Homo sapiens: one gene and its partner. The protein of the gene in region 2 interacts with the protein of the main gene of each other region in a pairwise test. Each region holds a gene or a part of one and is shown on either strand. Other genes may lie near its edges.

Evidence for each region.
Region 1: the proteins of XPO7 (region 2) and USO1 interact in binary tests that used the Homo sapiens proteins (3 or more experiments, as listed by UniProt).

Annotation. Positions count from the first base shown.
Region 1 is NC_000004.12:75,714,588-75,731,300, forward strand, and holds the start of USO1 (general vesicular transport factor p115), read left to right. Parts: upstream 1-9,989; 5' UTR 9,990-10,232; coding exon 10,233-10,298; intron 10,299-16,713. UniProt on the Homo sapiens protein: General vesicular transport factor required for intercisternal transport in the Golgi stack; it is required for transcytotic fusion and/or subsequent binding of the vesicles to the target membrane.
Region 2 is NC_000008.11:21,911,827-21,928,629, reverse strand, and holds the start of XPO7 (exportin-7), read right to left. Parts: upstream 8,969-16,803; 5' UTR 8,860-8,968; coding exon 8,842-8,859; intron 1-8,841. Other genes in the region: DOK2 (docking protein 2), read left to right, coding at 15,029-15,091, 16,120-16,401, 16,642-16,729.

The DNA of each region.
Region 1 (16,713 bases), on a different chromosome or scaffold from region 2:
ACCGCACTCCAGCCTGGGCAACAAAAGTGAAACTCCATGTCAGAAAAAAAAGAAAAGAAATGATAAAGCAAATGGGGTAAAAAGGTTCACCTTTTGCAATCTCTCTGCAATTCTGAAATTAGTTCAATATAAAAAGTTAAAAGGGTAGAAGAATGGGAAAGGCACACTCATTTGTAGATACTTTTTCCCCTTCACCTTTGCCCCTTTTCTTGCCCAGAATAAGAAATGTGATGCTGGAGATAGAACAGTCAGCCTGTAACCTCAGGCCAAGGATGCCTGCACAGAAAAATTCCAGCTTGCATCCAAGCTGGCATCCTACAGCCTCTGTTGTTAGTCCTGCACTGCCTACCTCCTAATTTATTCAAGACACTCTTTAGTTTGGTGTTCTATTGCAGCACGTGGTAATCCAATTGATACAGCAAAATTAAATAATTTGCCCAAGGTTACAGCAGTCCAAAAGTGGCAACATCTGTCTAGGTTTGCAAAGAAAACATGCTTTTCTGGTCTGTATCATGCTGAAGTCTAGGCTTCTCTCTCTGTGAAACAGGAATAAGAATTTCTAGCAGTCCAGAACGAAAAACACACAGAAGACTGCCTATGGCAGGGCCTGGCACAGAGGACAGAGGCTCAAATGTTTGCCGAATCAATAATTCAAGAAACCAAGCACATCTGTTTTCAGTATTCTGGTATACTGAGCTATTTTAAGTACTGAAGGAAAAAAAAACTGTATTTATGTGGGTGCAATACTCTAGCTGCTGCAGATATTAGTCAGCAATTTCATTCAGTTTCTTGGATCTCTCTCACACTCGATCCTCACTGTATCCTTCACAGAAATCCTTCTACCCTCTCTTTGTCCATCAGCTCCTGCAACTCATGTCCCCATCAAAGGGGCAGAGTATGGATCCCATGTGAAAAGCTCTCTGAACACAGTGGCTTACTCAGCTGGGGCAGGCAAGTGTTAGACCACAAGAAGGACCATCCTTCCCAGGTTGTCAGAAAAAAATCAAAACTGCTGCACCAGGAAGGCCTAGCCTCTGGCCAGAGCTAAGCAGCTATCCAGAGGCTGAGGCTCAAAAAGCTTCATGCAACAGAGTTAAAGGTGCAGGAAAGAAGACACTGAAAGCTAATCAACCCATCAGCCATGCCCCGGGGCTTTTCTGAAGTTGATAGCAATCACTAATATATGTTAAAATGAAATGTGTTAAATACTTCCTTTCACTGATTGGTTTTAAATGGGACAAATTACGAACTTTTTAAAAAACAAAGATCCTGGTATTTATTACACCATAAATACCAAAATACCAGTATAGTCATTTTTCTCTGACCCAGATACTAGAACGAGACCTAGATAGCAGCACCCTCACATGAAGGAGACCGGCTGCTGCAATAACCTATACAGACCTTAGATTCTGAGCTTTTTAGGAGTCAATACTCACATACTTGGGAAAGAGAGAGCACATCTAGGACTAGGGTCTAGGTCACTTTGGGTCACAGACTTTGTGCCCCTGTCCTGAAAAGGTCATGTGTGTAGGTATTGGAGGTGGGGAGAGGGCAGTGGGAAGGGCAAGTTGGAGCTTTTCTAGTTCTTTTTTTTCCCCTGGAGACACAGTATTGCTCTGTCACTCAGGCTGGAGTGCAGTGGTGCAATCTCAGCTCACTGCAACCTCCGCCTCACAGGTTCAAGAGATTCTTGTGTCTCGGCCTCCCAAGTAGCTAGGATTACAGGCACGTGCCATGATGCCCAGCCAGCTAATTTTTTGTATTTTTAGTAGAGATGAGGTTTCACCATGTTGGCCAGGCTAGTCTCAAACTCTTGAGCTCAGGTGATCTGCCCACCTCAGCCTCCCAAAGTGCTGGAATTACAGGCGTGAGCCACCACACCCGGCCCTCTTCTAGTTCTTGTTTTTTTTTGTTTTTCTTTGTTTTGTTTTTGTTGTTGTTTTTGGAGACAGAGTTTCCCTCTTGTCACCCAGGCTGGAGTGCAGTGGCGCGATCTCGGCTCACCGCAACCTCCGCCTCCCAGGTTCAAGCGATTCTCCTGCCTCAGCCTCCCGAATAGCTGGGATTACAGGCATGCACCACCATGCCCAGCTAATTTTGTATTTTTAGTAGACACGGGGTTTCTCCATGTTGGTCAGGCTGGTCTCGAACTCCCAATCTCAGGTGATCCACCCGCCTTGGCCTCCCAAAGTGCTGGGATTACAGGCGTGAGCCACTGTGCCCGGCCTCTTCTAGTTCTTTATACCACCCACAACTAGTATGGTGTTTGTGCGATCCTGTAAGGAAGCATCAGGGGACAGAGGCCAAACAGAAGACTTCTCTTCTTTGCCTCTTTGTACTTACAATCTTCTCATCTTCCATCCCTCTGCCCATGGACTCCTAAGCTACTGGCAGAAAATTATGTCCACACCCAACTACCTCTCCTTTTCCCAAACCACCTGCCTATGCCAGTTCTGGACCCTCCACATAACATCTGCAGGTTACTGAGCCCATCCTGATTATCTCCCTAGTGTATTTGTCAATCACAGGCCATTGGCATCTTAAAGTCAACTTCATTAAAAAACTGGAATTATGGCCGGGCATGGTGACTCATGCCTGTAATCTCAGCACTTTGGGAGGTTGAGGCGGGTGGGTCTCCAGGAGTTTGAGAGCAGCCTGGGCAAGACGGTGAAACCCCATCTCTACAATAAAATAAAATAAAAATTAGCTGGGTGTGGTAGTGCACACCTGTAGTCCCAGCTACGCAGGAGGCTGAGATGGGAGGATCGCTTGAGCCTGGGAGAAGGGGGTTGCAGAGAGGGGACCTTGGAAGTGTGGGCTGACTTTGGAAAGTTTTGGTCCAGGTCAGCTACCATCTGCTGGCCTGGAGGCCCAGTCTGATCTCAAGAGACAACTCTGTCACTCCCTCCTGCCACAAATACTTGCTTGGGGCATAGCCTCAGGCAAATGACAGAGATCAGCTGCCAACTACTCTAAAATCATAGCTTGCTGGGAAGTTGGCAATGACTCCATTAAAATCATCTTAAGCTTACATGGAATCTTGGCATCACCCAATGCGAACTTCAAAGGCTTTGGTCTAGCTATTGAATGGGACAGTAAAGACTGCAACCCTACCCTGGCTATTCAGGACATACTTGTTCAGCTGGCTTGAGGTGTTGGGGGAGAGACAATGGTGTTGGGAGGTAACAGTCAAATTCTCCACAAGAAACAGTGCTAGGGCCTGGATCTGATAAACTTGTCCCTCGATAAACAGTTTTATAAAAAGTCCTTTGGCCAGGCGTGGTGGCTCATGCCTGTAATCCCAGCACTTTGGGAGGCTGAGGCGGGTGGGTCACGAGGTAAGGAGATCAAGACCATCCTGGCCAACATGGTGAAACCCCGTCTCTACTAAAAATACAAAAATTAGCTGGGTGTGCTGGCACGCACCTATAATCCCAGCTACTTGGGAGGCTGAGGCAGAATAGCTTGAACCTGGGAGGCAGAGATTGTAGTGAGCCAAGGTAGCATCACTGCACTCCAGCCTGGAGACAGAATGAGACTCCGTCGCAAAAAAAAAATTACAAATAAAATAAATAAATAAATAAAAATAAAAAGTCCTTTGGAAATGAAAATGGGATTTCCTAATTTAGGTGTTTCTTCTTTCTTTCTTTCTTTTTTTTTTTTAGGTGTTTCATAAGTAATTCTGCTTATTGTATTTTCTTAAAAATGGAAACACACCTGGGTTATACTTTCTTTAAAAAAAGGGTATAGATTTGCTTGCTGATTTAAGTACAATGCAATGTCAAATTACGTTTATTAAATAATGTAACATGATCTTTTGAATCTTTGCAGAGAGGCAGAACTTATGCTAGCATACACTAGTGATAAGGCTGGAAAAATAATTTCAAAAAAAACTGGCAAGCAGTTTAAGTACGTTAGGGGATACAGTGAGCATGTATTGTTTTTCTTATCCTGATAAACATTCTCCTGGCATACTATTCCAGATTTCCTAGGAGAAATGTGAATGTCCCTGTTCCCCAGCTCCTATGCCATATGCTTTGAGATGAGATGAAGACTTCTACTCCTTGCTTTAGAGGTGGGAATGTGACTCAAGGCCAATCAGAACATCTCAAACCTTAAACTACAGGAATTAGCTCACCACATAGGCATGCGACCCTATCAGGTAAAATGAGTCACAAGGAGACTTTTGCTGGGACTCTTAGGAGAGAGGTTGGGAGTCTTTGATGAACTTGGGCCTAGGATACTAGGACTATAGGTCCTGGCAGCCATCTTGCCCCGCATGGAGCTAGAGAAAAAAAAACAAAAACAGTTAAGGAGAGCAGAGTCCAGAAATAGTGAAAACCCAGATAACAGGGAAATTGGCTTGATACCCCAGATTAAGCCTCATCTGAAGTAACAGACTTCTCAGTAACATGAGCTAGTAGGGCTGGAGTTGAAGACTTACAGGGTAATATCTTTAAACGTTCAGTTGTTAAGAAATTGATAATACCGTGGCTCACGCCTGTAATCCCAGCACTTTGGGAGGCCGAGGCGGGCGGATCACGAGGTCAGGAGATCGAGACCATCCCGGCTAAAACGGTGAAACCCCGTCTCTACTAAAAATACAAAAAATTAGCCGGGCTTAGTGGCGGGCGCCTGTAGTCCCAGCTACTTGGGAGGCTGAGGCAGGAGAATGGTGTGAACCCGGGAGGCGGAGCTTGCAGTGAGCCGAGATCCCGCCACTGCACTCCAGCCTGGGCGACAGAGCAAGACTCCGTCTCAAAAAAAAAAAAAAAAAAAAGAAATTGATAATACCGAAGATGATCAGGGTCTCCACTCTAATCATTATTGAGTACTTACTATGTTTCAAGTACTAAGTAATATGAACGTTACAGATATTATCTAATAAAATCCCAAAAACAACCACAGGAGGCAACAATTACCATTCCTTTAAAAAAAAGTAAAGCAGGAACTCTGGGCTCTATAGCATGTGAGACACCTCAACTATTCCAAGTCCTTACCTTGGTCTCATTTCTTTTTTGAGACGGAGTTTCGCTCTTGTTGCGCAGGCTGGAGGGCAATGGCAAGATCCTGGCTCACTGCAACCTCCGCCTCCCAGTTTAAGCGATTCTCCTGCCTCAGCCTCCCGAGTAGCTAGGATTACAGGCATGCACCACCACGCTCGGCTAATTCTGTATTTTTAGTAGAGACGGGATTTCTCCATGTTGGTCAGGCTGGTCTCAAGCTCCCGACCTCAGGTGATCCACCCGCCTCGGCCTCCCAAAGTGCTGGGATTACAAGGGTGAGTTACCGTGCCCGGCCTGGTCTCATTTCTTATCTCCTGAGAGAGGTAGCTGTCCAACATTTTAGCCTCTGAATCTTTTTGTTCAAGCGAAACAGGAAGTATAAACAAATGAAACCAATCAAATGGAGCAGGATGGGGGGGCCCAGAACCCTTTTTTTTTTTTGAGAAAGGGTCTCACTCCGTCACCTGGGCTGGAGTGCAGTGGCACAATCTTGACTCACTGCAACTTCAAGCAATTCTCATGCCTCAGCCTCCTGCGCATAGCTGGAATGATAGGCCACCACGCCCAGCTACCAAAACCTTCTTTCTTGGACTCTCCTCTCCCAAGGATTTCCTAAGGCTTTTAAAAATATTTTGAGGGCGCCGGGCGCGGTGGCTCATGCCTGTAATCCCAGCACTCTGGGAGGCCGAGGCGGGCGGATCACGAGATGAGGAGATCGAGACCACGGAGAAACTCCGTCTCTACCAAAAATACAAAAAATTAGCCGGGCGCGGTGGCGGGCGCCTGTAGTCCCAGCTACTCCAGAGGCTGAGGCAGGAGAATGGCATGAACCCAGGAGGCAGAGCTTGCAGTGAGCTGAGATCGCGTCACTGCACTCCAGCCTGGGCAACAGAGCGAGACTCCGTCTCAAAAAAAAAAAAAAAAATATTTTGAGGGCTAGGCGCGGTGGCTCACGCACTTTGAGAGGCTGAGGCAGGCGGATCATAAGGTCAGGAGATCGAGGCCATCCTAACTAACACGGTGAAAACCTGTCTCTACTAAAAATACAAAAAATTAGCCAGGCATGGTGGCATGTGCCTCTATTCCCAGCTACTTGGAAGGCTGAGGCAGGAGAATCGCTTGAACCCGGGAGGCCGAGGTTGCAGTGAGCCGAGATCGCGCCACTACACTCCAGCCTGGGTGACAGAGCGAGGCTCCATCTCAAAATAAATAAATAAATAAATAAATAAATAAATAAATAAATAAATAAAAATATTTTGAAGCCTGGGGCAGTTGGCTCACACCTGCAATCCCAGTATTTTGGGAGGCTGAGGCAGGAGAATAGCTTGAGGCCGGGAGTTTGACATCAGTCTGGGTAACATAGCAAGACTTCATCTCTACAAAAAAAAAAAAAAAAAAAAAATTAGCCAGGCATGATGGTGTGCACCTGTAGTCCTAGCTACTCAGGAGGCTGAGGCAGGAAGAGCTCTTGAACCCAGGAGTTCCAGGATGTATGTGCCACCACGCCGAGCTAATTTTGTATTTTTAGTAGACAACGGGGTTTCTCCATGTTGGTCAGGCTGGTCTGGAACTCCCAACTTCAGGTGATCCGTCCACCTCAGCCTCCCAAAGTGCTGGGATTACAGGCGTGAGCCACCTCGCCCAGCCTCAACTAGTCTTTTTTTTTTTTTTTTGGGACAGGGTCTCACTCCATCCTCCCAGCTGGAATGCAGTGGCACAATCATGGCTCAATGCAGCCTTGATCTCCCAGGCTCCAGCGATCCTCCCACACCCTCCCAAGTAAGTGGGACTACTGGCTGGGAATACAGGCGCATGCCACCATGCTCAGCTAATATTTTATTTTTTGTAGAGACAGGGTTTTGCCACATTGCCCAGGCTGGTGTTGAACTCCTGAGCTTAAATGATCCTCCCACCTTGGCCTCCCAAAGTGCTGGGATTATAGCCATGAGCTACGTCTTTAAAAACCTATATACGATACTGAAGGGGCTTATAACCTACCAAAATAATAAATAAATAAAAACCTATATATGATAGATTTCAAATACAAATGATCATTTATATTTATCCTCCCAAGCAGGCATAGACAACATTCCACCTTACTACCACCCCAACTAAAAAACAATCTTATGCAATTATATTTCGTTGTTTTTGCGAGTTTTCCACTAGAAAGTTAAGTGGGCCACTGAAAAAAGCAATTTGAAAAAATGAATTTCAAACCAATGAATTTTGTTCGTTGATCTATTGTCAGGTTTGGTTTAGAAAAAGATCACTCTTAATTTTGATTATATGTATTTTAATGATTCATAGGACTCTTATCCTGAATGCTTAGATTTATGAAAGCCAGAAGTATTAACAGTGCAAGTCAGGCCGTCACAATTTGTTCAAGTTTTCTCTTCCTTTATTAACTCAGGTAGTTCCTGAGCATCTACCATATTAAAGGAATTATACTAGATGATTAAAGGATGCAAACAGGAATACAACACAGTCCCTGACTTTTCTCCCTCTACAAAATCAGTAGAAGTGGATTAATATGTAACTCTTCCTCTGAAATAAGGAGTCTATTTCATGGTTGTTCTGTAGTGACAATGCCTCGGGGATCCCACCTTCATCACCTTTGCACCCAACTGTCCATCACTCCTGTGCAGGGGATGCTGCTGGGGAAGAAAACAGGTCAAATGCAGGGAAAATTCATAGTAAGCTGTTACTACTACACTCACGAAAGTATAGTAACCTACTTTACTCACTGAAGTACAGTAACCTACTGTACCCACCAAAGTTTAAAACAAAACAGGACATTTGACAAGGCTGGTGCCTTTAAACAACTTTGCTAAAATGTCAAGGCACTCTTTTTAATTATTAAATAAGAGGAGTAATAGACATTTGTGGCCCACTCCGTCTATGAGCCTCATTCCTGATGATGGGGTAGAGTGAGTTTCAGGGACAAGGTGAAGTGAGGTTCAGGGAGGGGTGAGGCTTAGGGGCTTAAGTGAAGTTCTTTGCATGCATTTCTTAGTAACAAAAATGCTGAGTAATTTACTGGTTACTTTTTTTAGGCTGCAACAAAATGCTCCCATGGAAAATGTCTACGGTAAAATGTCAAGTGTATAGCTTTAAAGCAGAGGACAATGCTTAGCGCACAGTATTTTTGGCAGTATGACCCCACCATTCTCCAAGTTGCCCAGGCTTAAAATGTTGGCACTAGGAAACACATAGCTTATGATGTCTTCCCTACAATTTCACTTTACAGATTAAAAAAAGGGAACCTCCTCTTAGTATAATATTCATATATTCTTTCAATAATTTATTCATTTATCCATCAATATCACCTTTTATGAGACAGTGGTAAGCAACAGAGATATAAAATGAATAACATAGTCCTGCCCTTAACAGTTTGGTTTAGCAAGCATTTATTCAATGTACACCATATACAGTATCAATAACTGCAAAGTGCTAACATATAGATGTGTACCTACATTTTAGGGAAAGCTTTCAAGAATGATGTCAGAGTTGAGCCTTAAGGAATTAGCAGGAGTTTGCTTGATGAAGAGAAAGGAAGGGAAGGGCATATCCAGGTCTGAGAAAAATGCCCAGAGTATGTGGGGGAGGCAGGAGCTGAAAAAGTAGGCAGGAGCTAAATCATAACAGGCCTGTATGACAAACTAAGGAGTTTGCACTTTATTCTGGACAGAATGGGGAACAACTGGAGGATTTTAAGAGGAATGACATGAACAGATGTTTTGTTGTTGTTAGTCTCACCCAAGGATGGACTGGAGATTGGACTGGAAGGAAGCCAGGGCTGAATGCAGACAAACTAATTAGGAGGCTGTTGCTGTCATCTCAATGAGAAATGATGAGAAGAACATAATCTATGTCACAGGCACAGAGGATGGAGAGCAGAACACCTATTTGAGAAATATTCTATAAATAGAAATGATAGGACATGACTATTGATTGGACATGTGTGGGTGGAAAGCCAGAGTCTAAGATTCTTCCCAGCTTCCTCTGTCTAGCTTAGGCAATTATTTGGACAGTGGTACTACTGAGCACGGCACGCACACAGTAGAAGCAGCATATTGACTTTTTTTCTTTAAGGGAGGCAGGGAAAGATGACGAGTTCAATTTTAAATGCTGAATCTGAGACCTGTGGGGAATCCAAGGGGAGAGGTGCATGAGTCAGTTAGCTAACTAGACCTGTGCTTTTTAGCCTCAAGAAATTTACAAGACTATTCCAGAAGCATGTGTACTGACAACCTCACTGCCAAAGGAACAGGCATACCAATTAGAGAAAATGACAATTTTTCATGTTAAAAAAAAAAAAACTGAAAACACAGGGGTTGAGAGTTAATAACGAAACATTATGTTACTCGCCAAACTGACACAGCAGAACAATGTATTTCTCTAGTAAGCTAAATGTAGGGTTTGATGGGTTTCCTCCTGACGACACTTGAAAATAGAGGTGTACCTGGTGTTTAGATCTAGGAATTCCTTTCAGCAGGTTTGAAGAGCAAGAGCTGAGAAATGCGCCCTCCAGTGGCAGTGGAATGAGGGGTGTCTAGTAACCCTTTTTACCACCAAACAAAGCCCTGTAAAGAAATGCAATTTACCGGGATCAGAAAGCCACAATGCTGGTACCAGTAAACCGTCAAACCAAGCGAACCCTCTCAGGCGCCAGGAAGCCTTACCTGTCACGTTGGCCAAAGGAAAATTTCACTTTCGACTCAACAAAATAAGACCTCAGATTTGATAGCTTGCAGTAAGTCCCGCTTGGCGACGATTAAACACCCTGCAAGTCGAAACGCGTAGTCTAATCAAATCCTCTCCAGCCTGCAGGGCCGGGCTTCCACCACGTGGGTGGCTGCGGCCAGCAGGATCAATCCGCGAAGGGTGGGGGTAGGAGGCGTGCCCCTGCGGTGGGAGGCGGGGTCTGCGCAGTGGGTGGGGCTTCGGCGGAACCTAGCTAAGAGGTTCCTCTCGCCTCCGCTCCCCTTTTGCCTTCAACCTTCGAGCCGCCACGTAATGCCACGTCCCCGCGCATGCGCATCTTGGCCGCTGCTGGCGGCTGTTTCCGGGCTTAGAGGGCTGGAGTGGCCGCCGAGTTGGAGGCGGTGGTGGCAGCAGTAGGAGTGTGTAGAGTGCGGGATTGGGGCCCAGGCCCTGCGGAGGGCGGGGGAAGTTGTCTTCTTTTTTTTCCGGAGGGGCCGGTAAACCTGGTGGCTGAACGGCAAGATGAATTTCCTCCGCGGGGTAATGGGGGGTCAGAGTGCCGGACCCCAGCACACAGAAGCCGAGACGGTGAGAGGAGCAGCGGGTCTGGGACTTGGGAAGGGGTCCGGGCAGGGACGGGGACGGAGCACTCGGAGACCCGAAGGTCACCTCCAGCGTCCCACCATGGAGGGGGCATCCACATGCCGCCTCCCCCTTTGCCCTCCTTCCGCTCCTGAAATCCCAGAGTTATTCAATCACGCCCCCAGCTCAGTCCCCATTGCTGCCGTTCGGCCGGACTGACGGCGGCCGCGCCCCGCAGCTCTGTAGGCCCTGAAGCTCGGGCTAGGAGAGTGGTCCGCAGGTGGTACCGCACGGGAAGGGACGGATGCGCGGCCGAGCTGGCCCGAACTGCCTCCCACGCCCCTCGGGGCCGTGGGCCCCTCCCTCTTTCTCTTTCGCTCGTCTGCACTGGCCGAGAGGAGCCTGAAGTCCTGCTCCCTCCCTCGCAGTCTGAAACTGGGGCGTTGGGGAAAACTGCGAGAAGGTTTAAAACCCAGCTGTTGGTGAGAGCATTTGGCTAAGAATAAAACGATATTCTTTGAAGGACAAATCCACCTGCTCCTGTCCCATCAACTGGAAGAGCGGTCGTTCTGCCTGGTGTTATTTGTTCAGATCCGGCTTTTCGGGCTCACCCAAATATATATCATTTGGCAAATGCTACCTTGAACGTAGTAGGGATCTTAAGCGCTCAAACTGCTTTGGGGACACGTCCACCGCTTTCTGCCTGAACTCCTAATGACATGATTTGCGGCGTTATTTAAAAAAAAAAAAAAATGGTTAGCCGCTGAAAACATTATTTAATAGTTGCTTAGATTCTAGGTTTAGAATACACTTATTTTGAAGTTTGGTTAGTGTTTAATGGAATCGAGGGTGTATGCCTTTTTGAAATAAACTTTTTATTTGAGAAGAATTTTAGATCTACATAAAAGAGACTAAGTATAACACTTTAATGGCTAACTTTGTTAATGGGATCCTGAGGGATAATATAGTAGCTTTCATTTGTCAGGCTCTTACCTTGTGCTAGGTTCTGTGCTGAGCTCTTTATATTCCACATTATGCTTTAATCGTTAACTACCCTGCAAGATAGGTGAGAGTATTCTCACCTTAAAAGTCAAAAAATGAGACTGAGAGGGGTGAAGTAGGCCGGACGCGGTGGCTCACGCCTCTAATCCCAGCACTTTGGGAGGCTGAGGCCGGCGGATCACCTGAGGTCGGGAGTTCGAGACCAGCCTGACCAACATGGAGAAACCCCGTCTCTACTAAAAATACAGAATTAGCCGGCCGTGGTGGCACATGCCTGTAATCCCAGCCACTCGGAAGGCTGAGGCAGGAGAATCGCTTGAACTCGGGAGGCGGAGGTTACGGTGAGCAGAGATCGTGCCATTGCACTCTAGCCTGGGCAACAAGAGCGAAACTCTGTCTCAAAAAAAAAAAAAAAAAAAAGGGGTGAAGTAACTTGACCAATGTCACACTGCTAATAATAGAGCCAGGATTCAACCAAGAGGTACCTTACTTCAAAGCCTTCACTTTATTGCTCATGCCTGTATTTCAATACTTTTTGGGAACTTTATATAGTATTACTAAAATTAACTGCAGCTAGTCGCAGTGACACAGGCCTATAATCCCAGCTAAGGGGATGCTAAGCCAGGAGGATCGCTTGAGCCCAGGAGTTTGAGACTAGCCTGGGCAGCATGAAGAGACTCCATCTCAAAAAAAAAAAAAATAACTGCGCAGGTCTGGTTAGAATTGTTTAAAGCATAAGATGAAAGCCGGTAAATCTGTTTCTTTCATTTGAAAATCACTTTTCTGTCTCTCACTGTAACACACGCACACATTTGGCTTCACTCATCCATTCCCACTTGGCAACAAGGCAGCCTGAGCTACCCTACTAGAAGATCATGTTCTGTCTAGATTACCAGAGTCATACCATAATCACAGCCCACCACTTTTTTGTCTGATATTTGTGTTTGTGGCACCAGGTTATGAAATATGGTTTATTACAGCTTGCTTTGTGGAGTTAGACTTTGATTTGAATCCTGGCTTTCCACCCCTGATTGGATTGGATATGTAAGAGATAGCTAATACCCTCTAAGTAAAATGAGGAAAATGCCTGCTTTTTAGGATGTAATGAAGATTAAGTGAAATAAGTAGAAAGAGCCTGGCACTTAGTAGATGTATAATGAGAGGTAATTTTTACTATGTGTGGGTTGAACGAAGAATACCCTTTCCTGTTTTTGTTATTATTGGCCTTGTCACAGTGACTTCTGTAGAAAAGATGGAATAGAATTCACAGTGTATAGGATTTTAAAGCTAGAAAGTCCCAGATAGAGCCTCTTCATTTTATAGTCACAGAGCACTAAAGTAGCTTGCACAAGGTTGAAGAGTTGGAGCTAGAACATTTTGATCTTGCCACTGTGGATGGAACAACATAGTTTTTATATCACAATTTCAAAGTGAAACTTGAGTATCACTTGCGTATGTTGTATATATAAACTGAAAGGGTCCTTTCTTGTTCTTGCCTAACTTTGAGTATGTACATTTAAAATTGGAAAAGTAATTTGTCTTCTATTTTTTCTTTTTAATCACCTCCACAATAAAGCAATTTGCCTTCTGAAAATTATTATTCTGAGGTACAGTATGAATAAAATTTGTTTCACTATTTCGTTCCACCAGGAAGTACAACAGGTAAAAGGGGTCATGGATTACTAATTTAGAAGTATTTATAGAGCATCAGTGGAGTGTATATACAATTTTAGATGTTTTAATTGATGATTTAGTCTGGCCAGGATATTTGAGTTACCAGAGCTTGGAACCCCTAGCTTCTATATTATCATTTATTATTTTGTAGTTTTTTCCATTTCTGCAAAATTAAATTTTTTTCATGGTGGCTTTCCATCTTTCTTGCTTTTTCTAACATCTTTTTTCCAATGGAAGGGCTCTTTTCTTTGTCTGAATTAGACCTGTTATTTAAATTCATCATCAGCGCCTCCCCTAATCTGTACTTTCCCCCAGCACGTTTCAGATGCTTTTTCCTTTCTGAGCTACCTTTACATTTTAACTACAGTGTGCATATATCTTATTCCTTCTAGACTCTTAAAGTGTCTTTAGGGCAGGGTTCATAATGTATTTTAATCTTTGTTTTTCCACAGTAGTAGATGCCCAGTAAATACTTGTGAAATGAATTAATTATAGTTTTATTTGAAAGAAATCACAGATCTGTAATTATAGCAACTTACGTTACTAGGTACTAAAACACTTTTTAAAGACTAGAAACTGAAGTTCTCAAATGAAGTTCATTGTGTCAAGCTTTTTACTTAAGGGATTTTTTCATATTTACTAAATGCTTTGACTGCTTTCTTGTTTTTTTTTTTCTTATTGAATTTAAGTATCTTTTAAATGTGTGAGAGTTATGTGATTGATTGTATAGTATCTAGCTTTTCATACTCTTAGTTAAGAGTAACTTTGGACTGATATTAAGATGTTCTTCAGGCCGGGGGCTCACGCCTATAATCCCAGCACTTTGGGAGGCCAAGGCAGATGGAGCACTTGAGGTCAGGAGTTTGAGACCAGCCTGGCCAAACTCCTTTCTGGAGTCAAGCACATTTTTATGGTGAAACCCTGTCTCTACTAAAAATACAAAAATTAGCTGGGCATGGTGGCACATGCCTATAATCTCAGCTACTCAGGAGGCTGAGGCAGGAGAATCGAGGCGGTGGTTGGCAGTGAGCAACCACTGAGTGGTTAAGATTGTGCCACTGCATTCCAGCCTGGGCGAGAGAGCGAGACTGTCTCAAAAAGAAAGATGTTCTTGAGAACCTGTCAAGTAGTAAATATTTTATCATAGGATAGTCAATTCTATAAAGTACTGGATATTTTAAATTCAGAATTTCATCCACATTAAACTTTTTCTGTTTTAGAGTCATGTACTTTTGTTTTTGTTTTTGTTTTGTTTTGTTTTGAGACAGAGTCTCGCTCTGTGGCCCAGGCTGGAGTGCAGTGGCGCAATCTTGGCTCACTGCAAGCTCCCCCTCCCGGGTTCACGCCATTCTTCTGCCTCAGCCTCCCAAGTAGCTGGGACTACAGGTGTCTGCCACCACACCGGCTAATTTTTGTATTTTTAGTGGAGATGGGGTTTCACCGTGTTAACCAGGATGGTCTCGATCTCCTGACTTCGTGATCCGCCTGCCTTGGCCTCCCAAAGTGCTGGAATTACAGGTGTGAGCCACGGCACCTGGCCCCAGAGTCGGGTACTTTTACATTTCATTTCTCTTTTTTACTTGACACTGATTTCTGGTGATTGAAGCCTCTTTAGCCTTGACACAGTTTGCTGGGTGCATATTATTATAGTACAAATCCTACTCATGCTTTTGTTTTTTAGTTTTCTCTTTTTCCCTAACCACTAGACCACCAGGGACTTCATGCTTTTGAATGTAAGCTTATGTGTGCTTAGTGTTATATCTGCCTTCTATCTAGCACCTTTTTTTTGGGTAGGGGGGTGGGGTACGAAGTCTCGCTCTGTCGCCCAGGCTGGAGTGCAGTGACGTAATCTCGGCTCACTGCAGCCTCCGCCTCCTGGGTTCAAGCAGTTCTCCTGGCTCAGTCTCCCGAGCAGCTGGGACTACAGGTGCACGCCACCACGCCAGGCTAATTTTTTTGTATTTTAGTAGAGACAGGGTTGCACTGTGATGCCCAGGCTGGTCTTGAACTCCTGAGCTCAGGCAGTCTGCCCGCCTCGGCCTCTCAAAGTGCTAGGATTATAGGCGTGAGCCACTGCGCCCAGCCCCCAACTTGTACCTTTTTTAAAGCTAGTTTCTTGAAAATTCCAAGCAAGTGTTAACTACATTTGATGATGAATCATAGAGGCATTTTCTGTTCTCAAGTTGGACCCCGAGACATGAAAGTTGCTAATGTCCAGAAAAAGCATACAGAATTAGAACATTGTTATGGGGTCTCTTTCCAGATCAAACTTTCATCAGCTGTCTCAGAAAGCAGAAGGGCTAACAATATAAACACAGCCATATTTTCTTTTAATAAAAATTGTTATTAAAGAGTGTGGACTTAAATTTAGACATAGTTTTCGTTTAGTCAAGCACATTTTATACCATGTTACTATAAATGTGTAGTCTGAAATTCCTATTTGGGTTGATGTATTCTACATTAATAACCAGGTCAATGTCATAACTGGAATGTGTTTTCTCTCTTGGCCTGTTTTGCAATAACAATGTCGGAGAGAACTGTAATAATGATTTGTGTTTTGGTCATTTCTATATCGAAGCACTCTTTTTAAGTAGGGCCTATTGAATACTACATGGCTTTTTGGAAGGTTAATTTTGTAGATTATATAGGGTTCATTTAAAAGTTAGAATCATTTAAATTATACATGCCGTAGCATTACCAAGGTATGCTTCAAAAAATTTGAATAGATGTCCATGAAAAAAATTTTGTCAGCAAAGAAGTGTGTGCAACGACCACTAACAAAGAAAAAACCTCTAGTATTTATGCAAGGTTTTGTAAGCAGGCACTGTGTTATAGTTTCAGATATTTTTAAAATGTAGATAAAAAGTAAGCTGTTTGCCAAATTTATCTGACCAGACCTTTTTTTTTCCTCTAGGGAACTTTGTTATCTATTATTTTGAGAAGCATACTTAGGGAAAAATTGTCCAAGAGGATATATAATTCTGATGCCTTTTTCTTTATTTTCCTTTATTTCATTAAAAACATTACTCTTGAATCTGATTAGGAAAGAATATTAGAATTCCTTATATACATTTGTTGATACCAAATACTGTTCCTCTTTCTTTTTATGTATTTACCTTTTATTATTAATATTACTGCTTTGTACTCTGCTTTTTGTCTGTTGTAGGTATAGTAAAGTTATGCTTATTATTTTTATACCTCAAGCAGAAGTGCCATAAACATTTTTTGTGTCAAAAGTTATTCACCATTAATTTGAAAACTTTTTTTTTTTTTTAAAGAGACAGGCTCACAATATGTTGCCCAGGCTGGTCTTGAACTCCTGGCCTCAAACAATCCTCCTGTCAGCTTCCCAAAGTGCTGGGATTACAGAAAAACTTTTGTGGTGTTAGATTTTGAGATGCTAGCATTTGTGATAGGTTATTTGGTAGACATGTTTCATTATGACCCCTTGCTTAAAACGATGTCCTTTTGAAAAGCATAGTTCATTTATGGGAAAGAGCATGGAGAATAAATGAAGCAGTATATTACTTGGCTGACTTAAGGTAACTATAATGGAAATGGATTCATTGGATTTGTCTACAAAGAGACTTGTGTTTGATTTTTTAATGTTCCCACATCTCTTTTTATAGATTATAATAATTTAGGTCATATGAAGATAAGATTTGCTTTTGCTGTTTTAATAAAGTCTTCTCAGTAACAGAGTTAAATTTAAAACAAATTTCTGGGCCAGGCCTGGTGGCTCACG
Region 2 (16,803 bases):
ACATGTTAGTCATCAAAGAAGTACAAACTAAAAACACAAGATCCTACTAGAAAGGCAAAAAGAATGACAATACTAAATGTTGGCGAAGTTATGAAATAACTCGAGGTACAGTCATTTTGGAAAATTGACAGTTTCTTTAAAAATGTAAACATACACAATAAGACTCAGCCATCCTACTCCCAGGTACTCAAGAGAAATAAAAATGTACATCCATACAGAGACTGGTATATGAATATTCACAGCATCTTTATTCACAATGACTAAAAACTGGGAACAACCTGAATGTCTCCCAAAGAGTGAATGGATACATCCAATGTGATATATTCATACAACGGAATACTTGGCAACAATGAAAAGTAACCAAGCACTCCTACTATGCAACAATGAGAATCAATCTCAGAGTTACTATGCTGAGTGAAAGAAGTCAGAAAACAAGAGTATACAGTAAGTCCATTATATAAAATTCCAGAAAATGCAAACTAATTTATAGTGACAGAAAGCAGAACAGGGTTGTGTGGGTCTGAGAGCTGAGGGAGGAACAGACTGCAAAGAGGAAATGTTCCATATTTTGATCCCGGAGTCACAGGTGTATGTATCTGTCAATTTGTACACTTTAAATGGATGCAGTTTACTGTACGAATAAAATTTTAGTAAAAAGGAAAGATTTTATTCCACTGGCAACAGATTTACACAACAGTAATCTCTATGAACCAAATATCCACTTTTGTGAGTGCTGTTTACATTTGAGGGGACGGGTATGGGAGGAATAGATAAGAAGTTGGGTCAGCCAGGTGCGGTGGCTCACGCCTGTAATCCCAGCACTTTGGGAGGCCGAGACAGGAGGATCACCTGAGGTCGGGAGCTCAAGACCAGTCGGACCAACATGGAGAAACTCCGTCTCTACTAAAAATACAAAATTAGCTGGGCGTGGTGGTGCATGCCTGTAATCCCAGCTACTTGGGAGGCTGAGGCAGGAGAACTGCTTGAACCCGGGAGGCAGAGGTTGCCGTGAGCCGAGATTGCGCCACTGCACTCCAGCCTGGGCAACAAGAGCAAAACTCCATCTTAAGAAAAAAAAAAAAAAAAAAAAAGGTTGGTTTTTTTTAAGTCTCACCCTATCAATGCTATCAATGTTAACACGAAATGTGCCTTTGGGAACCTCTAGGGTACATTAACAGTAACCTAAACCAAACAGCTCTGAATGGACAGGTTTTAGGAATTCTGTGAAATTAAAACTTCTTGCTCACAACATTCTGCTCTCCCTGTATGGAGTGTGGCTAACTGTAGAATTCCAAGAACTAGTAAATAATCCTTTACATTACAACAAATTTTCATTTGTAACACCTGTGGGATAATGTCCTTATTTTATTTGAATTTAATTTAAATTAATTAATTAATTTTTTTTAAAAGACTTGGGGTCTTGCTATGTTACCCAGGCTGGACTTGAACTCCTGTACCCAAGTGATCCTCCCAGCTTAGCCTCCCCCCCAGTAGCTGGGACTACAAGCATGTGTGCCCCTGCCTGGCCTGTCCTTAAATACTCCCTGTTGCTCAGGTTCAATTCACCTAAAAACAATTTAATTTGGTTTTATGAAGGCCTGAAGAAAGTTGCTCAGTTCTGGAACATTATCAGTTCAAAATATTAAGACTAAGGAAAACAAGGTCACATTTTCCAGTAAGTTTTATTTAATCTTTAAAATTCTTGGGTATGCCCCAGGCTAGTTTTTGACAAGACCTCGCAGGGATCCTTAGATGGGTCAATGACAAGCTGAAGACAAAAATATCACCTACTAACACGAACATTACATTCTAAATAATTTGTGGCTATATATTGGGCAAAATTTAGATTTTTTTTCAACTGAGATGTATAGATTTTATCAATACATCAACAGATGTATTGATATGTGAAATATACATCAGGTTTCCCAGATCTTTTTCAGAGCAAACTTTATGTTTCAAGTTCTTACAGTTAAGTTAAATTTCATGACTAATTTTAGACAACGTCTTTTTGGAAGACAGAAGTAAAGCACTGAAGTTCAGGAGTTAGCAGAGGTGAATGAGGTTAAAAAAAAAACAAGCTTTGAAATAATTTTTGCCAAACTCATGACATATGCTTTCAAAACTTTGCAAACAATTTTAAATAGAATTGGAAAAAATCCTAAGAAAACCCTTCATTTCCCTTTTCTAGCCTTAAATACACCCCTTTAAACCATAAATTGACTCAAACTTTAGGGCAAATGTCTAGCAAAACTCTCAGTTCTTTCTGAGACTGCACATTGTAAATATCATAATTTCTTATCATGCAAAGTACCAATGAGATCAGCATGTGTCCAACTCAAGTTCATATATTTAAAAGCTAAAAGGCCACTACAGTTATAAGATTACAATTTCCTGAAGTAGTACAAGGGATATTTTAATAATCTGCTTGTTTTCAGAGGAACATTGTTTTCCAGAGGAAAATATTTTGATTTTTTTTTTCATCTAACTAATGTTTTTCTAAGAGAGGTTTAAAACCCAGGGGCTTTTAAGTGAGAATCATTTCTCAGCCTACCGGCATCAACATTTGACTAATAATGTTAATTTCTTGTCCCATAAGAAATATCTTTCACTGCTTATTGTCCAACTAAGAGACCTCTTTCGTTACTGTTTGGGGCATAAGAGAGCTCAATTTGTGAGAAGTGCTACAGATGACTAGATCTTACAGAAAAAAACTCTGGGAGTTTAAGAAATTAGGCGTAAAGAAGAGGAAGATATATTTAAGATAGATAAAATGGAAATGTTGGTTTGAGCATAAATATTTTAAGGAATTTTACAAACATGTACATATGAATTGAGAACACGGTGCTATATTGGGGAGAGAATACAAGGATGACAACTGGAAATCCCATCCAGAATGCTTGAAGTACAAGGGACTTCACAGATCACTTAATCCAGGCTCAGAGACCAAACGAGTTTCCCAATTAAATGGCATAACACTATAAAAGGCTTAGCATGGTGCCTGGCATATAACAGACACTCAGTTAATACTGGTATCCCCCTTTCCCTATGACCAACCAAGTCACACTCCAGTAAGTCTTACAATAACCACCACCATGAACATCATCTAAATCTTCCAACAGCGAGTTCTCCAGTCTTCCAGGGATACCAGGTCTTTTAATCAGCTTATTTCAAGGAAAATTCTATTACTATTATCTCTATACCGATGTTACATTGCTGCGGTGAGCATTAAATGATATCAATTAATGCTAGCATGAAGTTTCCAATTCTGCCTTCTCTTAAATACATCCTTCCCATTTTATGGCAGTAGGAGTGTGTGTGTGTCCTTGTGTGCATGCACACATGTGCGAAGGGGTGAACAGCCATTGAAGCAAATATCAGAAATACTTAGGATCTAGGTTTTTTACAACTCTCTCCCTCCCCCAAGATTTTGATATGCCTCCTGGGTACCAATCCCATTCCATTGAGAATTTCCTAGTAATGAGTCACTATAAATGTTAGGAATGAATGTATTCCAGACATGTATTGGAATGGGGGAAAAGATAACGGGGTAGTGACTGCCCCCCATTCAGGGACATGTCGACAAAACCAGTCTCACTACAAATTCACAACTCAATGACCAGGCTTGTTGTGATGCTCAATTCAATGTAAGGCCCTGGAAGTAGAATATCACATCTTGTATTTCCTTCTATGTGTCTGCACAGTAACAAAAATGGGATATTAGTAGATGCTTAAGTGGTCACCATTAATCATCCTCAAGAATTTATTTCAATATTTAAAAATTCAGCTTGCATGTAACTCTCCAGGAACATTTATCGTGGTCCTGAACTTGCTTTTCAAATAAGTCAAAAGAGAAATACTTGTAAATCAGTTTCTCAATAAAATGTTGTGAGCATTTTCATCTAAAAAGAAACATATATTTAAACTCTAGTTATCAAGGTTCATGAATGGCCTAAAATTGTGGGTAAAATTTTGTGTAGGCACACTCTCCCCACCCCCACCAGAGAGCAGTAACATAGCTTCCATCATATTATGAAATAAATCCCCCCAAAGCTGTATAATCACTGCTCTGTACTGCTTCTCCCCCTGGCTTTGAAGCTAAAACTCTCAGGTTACTCAGCTTGAGTTCTAAAAGCAGATTTAAAAATAAAATGACAGGATAGTAGTTAGTGGGGTGGGGGGGGGAGGGGGGCTACAGGTAGCTGTTGAGATGGTATCAGGGGACTTCTGGGGCACCGATAATACTGACTTGATTTGGGTGCTGGTTAGTAAGGAGTATTCACTTTGTGAAAATTCATCAAGCTGAACACATATGATTTCTGTACCTGTCTGCAGGTATATATTTCAATAAAAAGTTTTTGAAAAAAATAACAAAGATGGGTCACTTATACACAGCATATATCATTACAGAATTTAATGAAGTCCTTAAAAATGATGCACTAGGAGAGGCCCATTGGTAAAGAACTGCAGCCTCCAGACAACAGCCAGTGAGGAACTGAGGCCTGACCAGGCCCGCTGTGTGTAAACCTAAAGAAAATTCTCTATCCTCAAGTCAAGCCCTGAGATTGACTGCAGCCCGGAGCCCCAGCTGAGAGTTTGACTGCAAATGAGACCCTGAACCAAAACCATCTAGTTAAGCCACTCCCAGATTCCTAACCCTGAGAAAATGTGAGATAATGTTAGGTGTTTTAAAAAGATGCAGTTTCAAAACACTATCTTCCTTGCACATACTGAAGTGGGCAAAGTAGCCTCAGTAGTTGTACCTACAGAGAGACATTAGCTTATTGGTTTAAACTGGCAACTTTCCCACCTCGAAAGGCTGTGGTACAATATTGCTTTCAAAACCCAACCAAGAAAAAAGAAAATACAGCTGGTGGTTATGAACATCAATTTCTGGGTCAAATGGAAGCTAATTTCTCTGTAAGATATAGAACAGGGATCTTCCTGATACTTCTTTCTATACCTTCATCTAAATTAGAGATTCTTCCATCACTGTACTGTATTTTGTTTTTTCTGTGTTAAGTGTTTGAATGATCCCACACGTATATATACATCCCTTAATTTTTCTCAAGGCTTCTCAGGAAATATACTAAAGTCAGAGTAATCAAGTAAATATATAGATATATATGTTTTAAATACAGACATTTCCAGTGTGGTGTTGAATAGGAGTAAAATAATGAAATAAAATACACACATATTATTTGTATAAACCCACGAAAGAGGTATAATCAGGGTGGGAGTGGGTGATGGGATATAGTTATTGCTTATCACCCAACACAGATGTAGCATGTTTTGAAATCAATGTATTCTTTCTTGTATCTACGTGTGTGCTCCTGAAGCCTGCCAAAAGAGCATCAGAATTGGATATTTCAGCAGTCTGGCTCCAGTGTCTTTCTCATTCTGAATCCTCTGAAGTGCCCAGCACAGAAAGGGCCTTGCACACACTAAGCATTCTGGTATTAGTCGAACTGGAAAAAAGTTAGAAAAGTTATGTTTTTTCCATTTAAAATTCTCAAAAGTTGTACGGAACTCCCTTTTCAAAATGGACTACCCATAGCACTTATCATTTCCTTGCATATTGTTAAAAGCTGAAAAAACAACCATCACTTTTGCTATAATCAGGCCGACTTTTTGCACCCTGCTAAAATTTAACCTGACAAGTTGTAATGATTCTTCACAACTCCCTGGAGTTACACTGGTAGTCAATATTTAATTACTGTGCCTGGAATTTAAAACAAACTATGACTACTTTGCAAATAGTACATTCTCCTAGTACAGTCATAATGCAAAGCCCAGTAAATAATAAGACCCAACACAACAACGTAGTAATTCCAGCAAAATCCTGGAATCAGTCTTCATTTCCATTATTTATGGTAAAACTAATATAATTCATATTAAATAGCATATTCGATATATAAATCATATTCTTTCCTTCCTTTTCCTCTCGAGCTCCTGAACACCAGCTAGCACTATTAAAACTAACATCTGATCCTTCTTAATCTTCTTCATCACCACTGTTCACTGAGCGTTGTCTTCATCTCTTTGCGATAACTTACCAGCTTTAGATATGTTAAAAAAAACATGAAAGGAAGGGCAACTAAACATAATTAAACACACATAAGTAAGTTTGATTTTTTTCTCCCACGCAAAGCTTTGTAACCACCCTGCCTTCAGGGTGAAAGTTAGATAAGGTTATCTAAGACCAAGAGTAAGAAACCCATCACATCGAGGAGCTGCTTAAGGGCACACTTCTACAGACACTTGCCTGTAACATCAACAGAGCTAAAGGGCAATCCAAATATTATAATTTTCCCATTACTAAAGTTTTATAGCACTTAAAATCGTCCATAAAATACATATCCTTAGAAGAGAGATATCCAAGACATCAGCCTGAGAGAACCCGAGAATCATATGACACTCAGCCTCAATTATGAAAAAACTGCTCACCCTGGTGGTTCAGAAAAGCACTAGATAACATAATGACTCGACTATTTAGTTCAACAAATGCAACTCTCCAATAATCAGTCATGAATCTGTAGCAGACACCTTTATAAACTTCACGTTTGATTAGTGTTATAAGAAAAATATCCCCGCCACCCTCCCCTCAATGCATTGCAGACTGTCTTTAATGAATCCTTTATTTACTCATTATACCTAGGGAAGCGTGTATCTTTTTCATAAGAAGGTTTTCTGCCACAATAAAGTACCACCTTAACATCTGTGAGTGCCCAATACTATTAACACTTAGTGGTCTGACAAAGAAAAGCAGTATGTCCCATTCTCTCTAAAGGGAAAAAAATTCACTCACAAACTTACCCCGTTGATATGAAGACCACTAAGCACTAATTTAGACCAACAGATTGCAGCTCTTAAAAGTAAATAAAGGGTACCAATAAAACACTGATCAACATGCTCCCCTTTGTTTTGAAAAGTTAATAAATTCTTACTTCCGTAGATTTTTGAGTGGTGAGTGGGAGAACAACATCTTACTAAAAATAAGACAGACCTTCGTTGGAGCGACAAATGCTGTGAAGATTGCTTTGATGCATCCTGACTTTCACAGGAATGACAACCTTTATGCTTCGAAAATGTGGGAGATCACATTAAGAGATATTTCTTTACGGGAAACAGCAAATAGCACGATGTATATTCATAAAAGTACTGACTCCCTCTGCATTCCGAAGCATGGTTCACAAAGGCTATCTATTCAAAGCCTGTTCTAGAATGCTCATAGACATCCCCCCAACCCCCAGTAAGGAAGCGCACTGGACCCAAACTCCAAAGACTTTGGGACACTTAGACTTACCTTAACCAAATCTCATTATCATTCTTGTGCTTTGGTTTTTGTTCCTTTAAATGACAGAAGTAATTCCTGCCTGAGTCTTGTAAGATCCAAGAATTTTTAAAAATCACATAAAATATTTCATGCTTCTTAGAAATGACTGCTATAAAACGCAAGGTGCTATACTATTATTATTATCATTATTATCATCTCCTTGTATCAACTTTTACTGTCACTTCTGAATTAAGCCAAGGTACTGGCTTTGAAACACAAATCCCGTGGTTTTCCACCTGTGATTACGTTTCTTGCTATAATTCTGTCCTGACAACTTGTCCCGCACACTCCGAAGATCTACTTTACTGATCTCTGGCCTGAAAATTAAGTCTTTTATTTAGTCCCTTCTCTCCAAAGAAAGGGGCAGAAGTCACACCACTCCAGATTCTTGTAGACGTATTAAGAATGAGATCATTCTTCTTACTTGAGGAATGATGCCACAGAATATAAAGGCGACACTTCTTGCCCTCTAATCTTTCCTTGCCACAACACAAAACCTGTGCACTTGGTTACCTAGAAAATTGGAAGGTTCCCCACAATGGATGTGCATCAATAACTGTCATAAAAATATCAGATCTCTGGCACAGACAGGAAAAACTTTATCTAGTTTGCAAGAAATTAAACCCTGCAGTCCTCCATCTGCTACTGGGTTTGGTATGGGCTGTCCCTTTCTAGGGCCTGTGCCTGTCTTTGAGGAGAGTGGCCTGGCCCCACAGCACGCTAGGAGCAGCTCTTGAGCCGGATCAAGACCCTCCCGAGCAACGTCTGCACCCAACCCTGCATCTCTCATTTCAGACACACCCCCCTCCACCCCGTGTTTCATAGGAGGTGTGGGCGCTCAACTCCTTCACTGTGGCTAGGGGGACGCGAGGGGAGGCGGGCCGAGGCCTGAGCACCCATTTTGGAAGACCGGGGAGCTCGGCCCTCCGGGCTGTACGATTTGGAGTGTCGGAGGGAAGGGCGCATCCGTGGGAGGGGGAAGGAGGCCGGGGTTGCTGGGGGGTCTCTCGTATTCCGGGGCGTGAGAGGAAGGCGGCGGGAAAGACTCCGGAGAGCGAGGTTTATCAGCGCGAGGTTTCCTTTTTGTTATCTGCTGAGGGATGGCGGGCGTCATGGGGGCGTCCCCCTCAGTAAAGTCAGCAAGGGGGTCCCCCTCGCTTCACCGGGGGGCGGGCGGGGGGGCCCGAGGACTTGACGGAGGCCTCCCCCGGGGACGAAGACAGTGACTGACGAACGTTGTGGGCTGCGCGCGCCGGGATGCCCGTTCCTGTCCCTGCAGCCCCGCGCGCGAGGTGTGGGACCGGGTGGGAGGGGACGGAGAAGGCCCCCGGCCCGGGAGGCGGGAAAGGCCCCGGGGCTCCGGGACGGGCGGCGGCTCCAGAGCCCCGAGTGGCGGCGGCGCGGGCCTGCCGAGTCCCGAGCCGGCTGGCGCCCTGTGGGCCGTGTGCACCCCCGACTCCACTCGCCGCTCTTCGTGGTCGCCCCCTCCCCCCCGCGGCTCCTCTCACCTGCACATGATCCGCCATTTTGCTCCATTCATGCTCCTCTCCGGCCCCCCCTCCCCCCCAGCGCGCACCTCGGCCGGAGCCGCTGCCGCCGCCGCCGCCGACGCCGTCGCCGCTGCGCCTGCGCGCTGGGGACTCGTCGCGCTGCGCTCGTGGCGTAGCGCCGCTCAGCTGCGCAGGCCCCGGCGGCCCGGGCCGTGGTTGGAGAATGCGCAGCACCGCTGGGACGGCGTAAAGGCGCGGGCAACGTCAGCGGCCCGGAGACGCCGGGTGGGAGGAAGGAGCGGGCCGGGGGAGCGCGAAGGAGGGGCAGCTGGGGGAACAAAGCTTTGTTTACATGGTTTTTAAAGGGGCCGCGCTCGCTCCGGCAGGCGGGCGCTGGAGTGGGAGTTGGCGCTGCCTTCTGCTCGTTTGCGTGGTGAGGGCTCCTGGATGGGGGCCGAGGTCTGTCGCCGCCCCGGGACCCCTGCACCCAGTGGCTTCCTCTCTTCCCAACCGTCTTCCCCCTTGACTCGCCCCTGGACGTCTCCCACCCCCACCCCCACCCCACCCTGCAGCTACGGGGACCCCCCACACCCCACCTAGGCTGCCTGCGAGATTCCTTACTTTCCAATGCCCTCTACTCAACGGGGGCCGATTCTGTGCTTGTGTCTGTCTAGCTTTCTGGACCAGGGCCATCGCTCTCTGGTCTGGATTTCACCAGCAACCCCAGTGGTTGATCTCGTGTTTTTCATTTCTGTCCTTTCGTCCTTGATAAACATTCATGGAAATAACCACCGAATGGTGGTGATGATCAAAACATACGAAGGCACAGTTCTGGCTTCCCAAAGACATTGTCCTCGTTGCCAATACTCTAGACTGCCTCCCGAGAGGGTCAGATGCTGGAAGAGGCAGCGGGGCTGGTGGTTAGGACCCCTAGGCTCGGTCTTGTGGAGGTATGAGTGGGAAAGCCATCTCTCTGGGTCAGATAAGGTCAGCCCCTGCATGCTGAGGCCAATTCCAGTCTTCCTCACTAGGAATTATCTGTTAGATAATGCCGGTTCCTGTTTTCCATTGGATTCCACTGTGGCTTCCTTTTAAGGCCCCCAGGTTAGATCATAGCTGGATTCTGAGAGCACTGATTGTTTGAAGTTTGTATTTACAGGGGACTACCATCATATGCAAATGATGGTGGTAGTGAATTACACACCCTTGGTGGATGTAGTGGACCGGTGCTCAGCATTCATTTCGACTTCCGTCCTCCTAGTAGGTCTTCCTGGTTTGCAGAGGTAGGGCACCTGGAAACTACATTACCCAAACTTCCTTGCAGCTAGGGTTCTGTATGCAAATTAGGCTCTGCCAATTAGGCTGACTCAGAGAAGATTTAAGAGGCAGAAGATTTAAGTGGCAGAGCTTTTGACTGTTAACTTCTAGCGAGCATAGACCTTTTCAGATGTTGGGTTTTTGTTTTTCCCCAAAACCTCCCAGCGTCCAATCATTAGCTCCGAGCGTATAAAGAGGCGGGGTGATGGGGTCAGTGGCTTTCTGAACCTGGCATCGGGCAATGAAATATTCTCAGAGTCACAATTGCAATGGAAATTCTTTGGATTCCCTACTGGACTGAATAGAGGTAACAGTTTCACAGTGGGCCAGGCCCAAATTTCTGTCCACCCTCCCTTCCCCCACCCCCGCACCCCAACCTCCCCGTGTTTCTCCCTGTGTCTTCCCTTCCTCAGTAAATGGTACCACCATTCATCCAGTTGCTCCTAATAAACACTCAGGAGTTGGTTCTTCAAGTCTTATCAGTCCCCAACATGCAAGTCACCTGCAAGTCCTGTTCAATCTATATCTAATATATACCCAATATGACCACTTCTCCATCCATCTCCACTGTTAACACCTTGGTCCAAGCCACCATTACCTTTCTCCTGTGCTCTGGTAATAGATTCCTAATTAGTTTCCCTGCTTCCTGTCTTGCCCCTTGATAACCCATTTTCCATATAGCTGGACGCTGCAGAACATTATTTTATTTATTTGTTATTTTTTGAGACAGAGTCTTGCTCTGTTGCCGAGGCTGGAGTGCAATGGCGCCATCTCTGCTCACTGCAACCTCCGCCTCCCTGGTTCAAGCGATTCTCTTGCCTTAGCCTCCCAAGTAGCTGAGATTACATGCGCCCACCACCATACCTGGCTAATTTTTGGATTTTTAGTAGAGACAGGGTTTCACCACGTTGGCCAAGCTGGTCTGGAACTGCTGACCTCAGGTTATCCACTCGCCTCTGCCTCCCAAAGTGCTGGGATTACAGGTGTGAGCCACTGCGCCTGGCCAGAACATTCCTTTAAAATCATAATTCAGATAATTTACACTCCTACTTAAAATCCTTAAGTGGCCTCATGTTGCATTTAGAATTCGAATCTTTGCTGTGGCTCAAGAGGTCGTATGAGCTGACCTCACTCTACCATGCCCCCTCTGGCTCAATGCTCTGTGGTCATTCTGGCCTTGCAGTTCTGCAAAGCCAGGATCTCCTGCCTCAGGGCCTTTGCACTTGCAGTAACTTCTGCCTGGATTGGTTTCCCTTCAGATCGTGAAATGGCTGGCTCACTCTCCTCATGGACTTTTCAGCTCACTTGTCACCTCTCAGAGAGCCTTTTCTCACCACCCTCTTGAAAGTTGTCCCCTGTGCCTATCACTATCACAGCATTGATCACTGTCCAAAACTACATATTATTACTCTTTCATTATCAGTCCCTCCAACTAAAAGCAGACATAGTATAAACAAGGATTCTGTCTATGTTGTATCCCTAGTACCTCTGCACAGAGTAGATGCTCAGTAAATAATTGTTGAGGCGGGGCATGGTGGCTCACACCTTTAATCCCAGCACTTTGGGAGGCTGAGGGGGGTGGATCACCTGAGGTCAGGAGTTTGAGAGCAGCCTGGCCAACATGGTGAAACCCCGTCTATACTAAAAATACAAAAAATTAGCCAGGCATGGTGGTGTGCGCCTGTAATCCCAGCTACTCAGGAGGCTGAGGCAGGAGAATGGCTGGAACCCAGGAGACGGAGGTTGCAGTGAGCCGAGATCGTGCCACTGCATTACAGCCTGGACAACAGAGTAAGACTCCATCTCAAAAAATAAATAAAAATAAATTTAAAAAACTGTTGAATGTATTAACTTCTTTATGTCTCATTCTAGGGTGCATGTGGGTTTCATATGAAGACATAAAGCATTCTAAATATTATGTCACTGTTAGGTAACATGTTATGTTATGTTATGTTATGTTATGTTATGTTATGTTATGTTATGTTATGTTATAGGCCCTTCCTCTCAGCGGGTTTCTAGAACTGGGTTCTCTCTTTCCTTAGTACTGAGAAAAGTGATAGACTTAATGGAGAAAGGGTGGGGGGCTACAAATGAAGCTCAAGAGACTGGCATTGTCCCCCTCCCACACCCCACAGTCAGGGACCACTGGGGGTGGAAGGGGCAGGGATGGGGTCCTTCAGAATACACGCTCACTAATTCTTTCGCTCAGTCCTTCACCCGTCTCAGGCCCACATCAGTTCTCTGCCTATCCTATACGTACTTACCTGTTGTGTGCCCAGAACTACCCCTTAGCTAGCTTCCCTACCTGCACATCATTTGAGGGTTACCTAATCCCCAAGCCGGCCCAAGGAGTCAGACACAGTCTCCTCTCCTCCTTCCTTTGTTGCCCCAAAGACAAGGTCCCAGCCCTCTTATGTTAGGATTGGGTTGCTAATCACTGCAGCAGAATAGTAATGAAAATTTCTTGGAGCTGTGGTTCCTGACTCCTGCTGAGAGAAACTGTTGTAAGGGACAGGATCCCAGTGGCTTAGAATGAGCCACAGGTGGGGTTTGGAGTGCCTTTTCCTTTCCCGTAAAAACAAAGACAAGCCAAGAGGCACCCTCAACTCCTTTACAGTGCTTTTTCTACACATCATTGGTGCCTGTGGACCCTAAGGGCTTCTCATTCTGTGCGCTTCTGCTGTGTCTTGGAGCAATGTCTCTGGGCTCCTGTTTACAGGGTTTCCCCATGGCTAGGCAGAAGGTACTGGGGTTAGTGCTTCTACATCAGGGTCGCCACAAATCCTGCTAGGGACAGTTGAAGGGGCCTAGAAGGACTGCAAGGGTGTTGCTCTTGGTATATACTCTGCTGCCCTATCTTCTGCAGTCAACGGCTACCGGAGAACTCCTCCAGCTTCCATAAGCAAGGGATGACAAGGGAGTGTCTGGATTGCCTGGGGTTCAGGCCTCCGGGTTTAAACAACTTTCAAGTAATCTGGTAAACTTGGGTGCCCCCCTGTGGTTCTGAGTGGAATGTGTCCATTTTGCCTTCAGGGAAGGCGATCAGGTTAGCAGGGGACATCCTCTGTCACCTTGCTACTCAGTGTGCTTTGACCCACCCACCACCGGCAGCATCTCAGGGCTCATTCCAGACCTACTTTATTGGAGTCTACTTTGAACAAGATCTACATGTTACAGTTTGGAAGGCACTGCTCTGGCAGCCCCTAAGATGGCCATAAAGCCCTCCTCTTCTCACTCCCTGCACCAAAGACCATGCAGCTCCCAGGCAGAGTTGACTCTCCTTAGGGACTAAAGAGGAAGATTAGGTCACATCCCATTTCCATACCCCTAACCACTTCCCAAGGTGTGCTTTTCCCAAAACAGTATGCTTGGTTCTCCCTTGAGCTTTGGATCAACCTCTTCAAACCCAGGCATCACGGCTGAGGGCAGTGAGTTTGAAGTGACTCATCCTTGTCCTCACAGAGCTCATGACATTCATTTTTTTCAAGCTTATTTGGTCCAGTCCATGGCATGTACAGCAGAAGGCCTAAGCTGTGCACGGTGCTGCTCGCTCCTTGCCACGGTAACTGAACCCCTGTTGTAGAGGAAATGGGCCTGTTTATATAAGCACCTGTTATGGGATTAACCCCAAGAGTGTTGGTCTGAGTCTCAGTTTTTTCCAACCCTTCTGCACTGTGCCTCCATACAGATTGCTTCTCTAAACCATCTGGCTTTAAGTTAAACTTCTCTGAGCAGCTTGGATTTCCCCACAGCAATGGATCTTTTTGCATGGATCTGGATTCCATTTAGGGGCCCTGCAAAATGTTGAATTAAAGATCAGGAGCCCTGGTCTCTACTTCTTCCTCTGCCCCCAACTACCTCTGTGACCTCAGGCAAGTTGCAAATAAGTGTGTTCATACCTGCCCTGCCTTTGTCAAAGGATGGCGTGGCTGATGAAAAGTGTGTGCCTAGAAGCTTTGCGAGCTACGAAGCACTTTCGGTAACTCTGAACCATTTTCAAAATGTATATGAAAGTGATTGCTATTGAAACTTAAGATAATTTGCAGATGAAACCTAAGCATCTTTCTAATGCTCAGGAATGCTTGCAAGAAGGCAAAAATCCAACAGTTGAGATGTACTTGGGGAGTCAGTCCCTTCTCCAGAGGGGATGATCATCTTTCTAGAATCTTTACAGGGTTGGTGTGAGTGTGTGTTGTTGGCAGACAGGGAGTGCTCGCATGTAGTTAAACGGTTGCCTCTCTCTCTCTCTCTCTCTCTGTGTGTGTGTGTTTGTGAAACTGGTATCTGGTTAGGCCCACATGAGCTGTCTTATGTGTCTCTCTGTGCAGTGCCGTGTGTGTCATTCAGCTGTTAAGCGTTGAGAGACCTGGGTTCTGGTTTGGTGACCTTGAATAAATCCCTCAGACTTTCCAAGCCTGTTTCCTTATTTGTAACTTAGTGGTTTGTCCCTTCCAACTTGCGTACAGCTTGGAGGGGGGGGCCTTCACTACTGATTTCACTGTCTAGTTTGGTTTCTGGGTCTCTGTTCCAGTGGGCCAGCCACTCTTTGCTGGCGCCTCCCTGTGCCAACTTCTGTACCTGAATTGTTGCTCACTGAAGAGCTGGCATTTAGCTTTTTGGAAATTGTCTCTAACTCACTGGAAATGCAGGAAGCTTGAGTATAAAACTCACTCAGAAAAAAAAAAAAAAAAGAAAAAAAAGAACACACACTCAGAAGAAACCGCAGGGCCTATCAGCCTGTCGTCATCGAGCAGACTAGAATAGTATAGAAAACCCTAGGCAGAGAGGAAATGAACTTCAGAGAAGGGAAACACACGGCTAAGAAGAGAGAGGCAAGGGCAGGAGTGAAGGAGAGAGCTGAAGCCTGGGGCTCCGAGATGGTCAGAGGATGGGAGACGGGGCAGTGAAACAAGGCTTCTTGTATCTTCAGCAGCAGCAGACGTTTGGAAAGGTAGGAGTGAGGCTGGGCTGGGGTTGGGCAGGGGGCCTGGGAGGCTGCTAGAATTCCTGGGTTGGAGAGGGAGTTTCATATTCAAAACCCTTATAGGTCTGACTGTGCACCCACCAAGTTAGACCCAGAGCTCAACTTTGGGAGGGCTCTTTTCCTACCCGACGCTGTCTCCTGAACCAGGCCCCAACCAGGTCCCAAACTGTGCTCCTTACTGAGGGCTGTTTGCCCTGGGTGGGGGTGGGGGATGTGCTGCTTTCATCTCTTGCCTCTTTTGCTCTCTTGCTCTATGTTGACTTCTTTTCACCGGACACCTTGGAAGGGAATGGAAGGGGCAGCTGGAGGGACAGTTTAGGATGACAATAGAGGTTCCTTCCCAACCCCAGTGGGGTGCATGTGGCTGGTGTTCAGCTTGGGCTGGGGCCTCTGGGGGCCTGGACCCCAGCCGGCTGTCCATCCTCTTTCCCCTTCCCTGGCCTCCTTGAACCAGGAAGTCCTCGTCCCCTAACCAACACTGGGGGGCACACCTGTCTCTCTCTCATGGCCCAACCTATCAAGGAATGAGGCAGCAAGGTTCAGGAGGGTGGAGAGAAGTTCTCCTTCAGGATTTCGCACAGAAGGAGAATGAGGTCTCCAGCCCGGGTCACACGCCGCCCTCCTCACTCCCTCCTCTGGGCCTCGGCCACTGCCCCGCTTTCCTCCCCAGACTGGAGTCCACTGCGGTGGGCCTGTTTGGCCTTCTTGCAGCCTGCTTTGGGCTCATCCCGGCGTTGCTTTCTGCCTGGGCAGTCTCTGCTCTTGCTCGTGGGCCTCCTTCTCGGGGCTGGCGGCTGATCTCCGATTTTCTAATTCCTGCAGTCACTGTCCTCTTCTCTGCCTCCCTGGGTCTCATGTGATCTTCACCTCTCTCTCCCCATCTCCAAGTGGCTGCCCCAGTCCCCCTCCCACGGTTCCTCTTCTCCCCTTGGCTCACGATCTCCCCGTCTCTGGGTGGCTCCCTCCCGCCCCCGCCTCCCACGCCTCTGGCACAGAAATGGCGCCGCTTCGGCGCCTCACTGTATGGAGGGTCGGACTGCGCCTTGGCCCGGCTGGAGCTGCAGGAGGGCCCGGAGAAGCCTCGTCGGTGTGAGGCTGCCCGGAAGGTCATCCGCCTCAGTGACTGCCTGCGGGTGGCCGAGGCCGGCGGAGAGGCCAGCAGCCCCCGGGACACCAGTGCCTTCTTCCTGGAGACCAAGGAGCGCCTGTACCTCCTGGCGGCCCCTGCAGCGGAGCGCGGCGACTGGGTGCAGGCCATCTGCCTCCTGGCCTTCCCCGTGAGTCGCGCGGGGTGCGGAAAGGGCAAGGGGGCGTGCAGGCCGAGGGTGTTAGATACTTCCTGTGGGCAAGTGTTACAGGTGTCAAGGTCAGGGTGATGGGGTGCTTCCTCCATGTGGGGGGACCCGAACCCAGTGTGCAGACAGAGCCAGCAGGTTGAGGTGGCCTGAAAGAAGGCCTGGGCCAGAGGGGGGCCTGGGGATCGGGGAAGGTGATGAGACGGGGCGCCTCCTCCCTAGGGGCAGAGGAAGGAGCTCTCGGGGCCAGAGGGAAAGCAGAGCCGGCCCTGCATGGAGGAAAATGAATTGTACAGCAGCGCAGTCACAGGTGAGGGGGCGGGGGCTGCCCTGCTCTCCCCTGGGGGCTCTCCCCAGGGTGAGGTGGAGAGGAGGTGTGGGCTG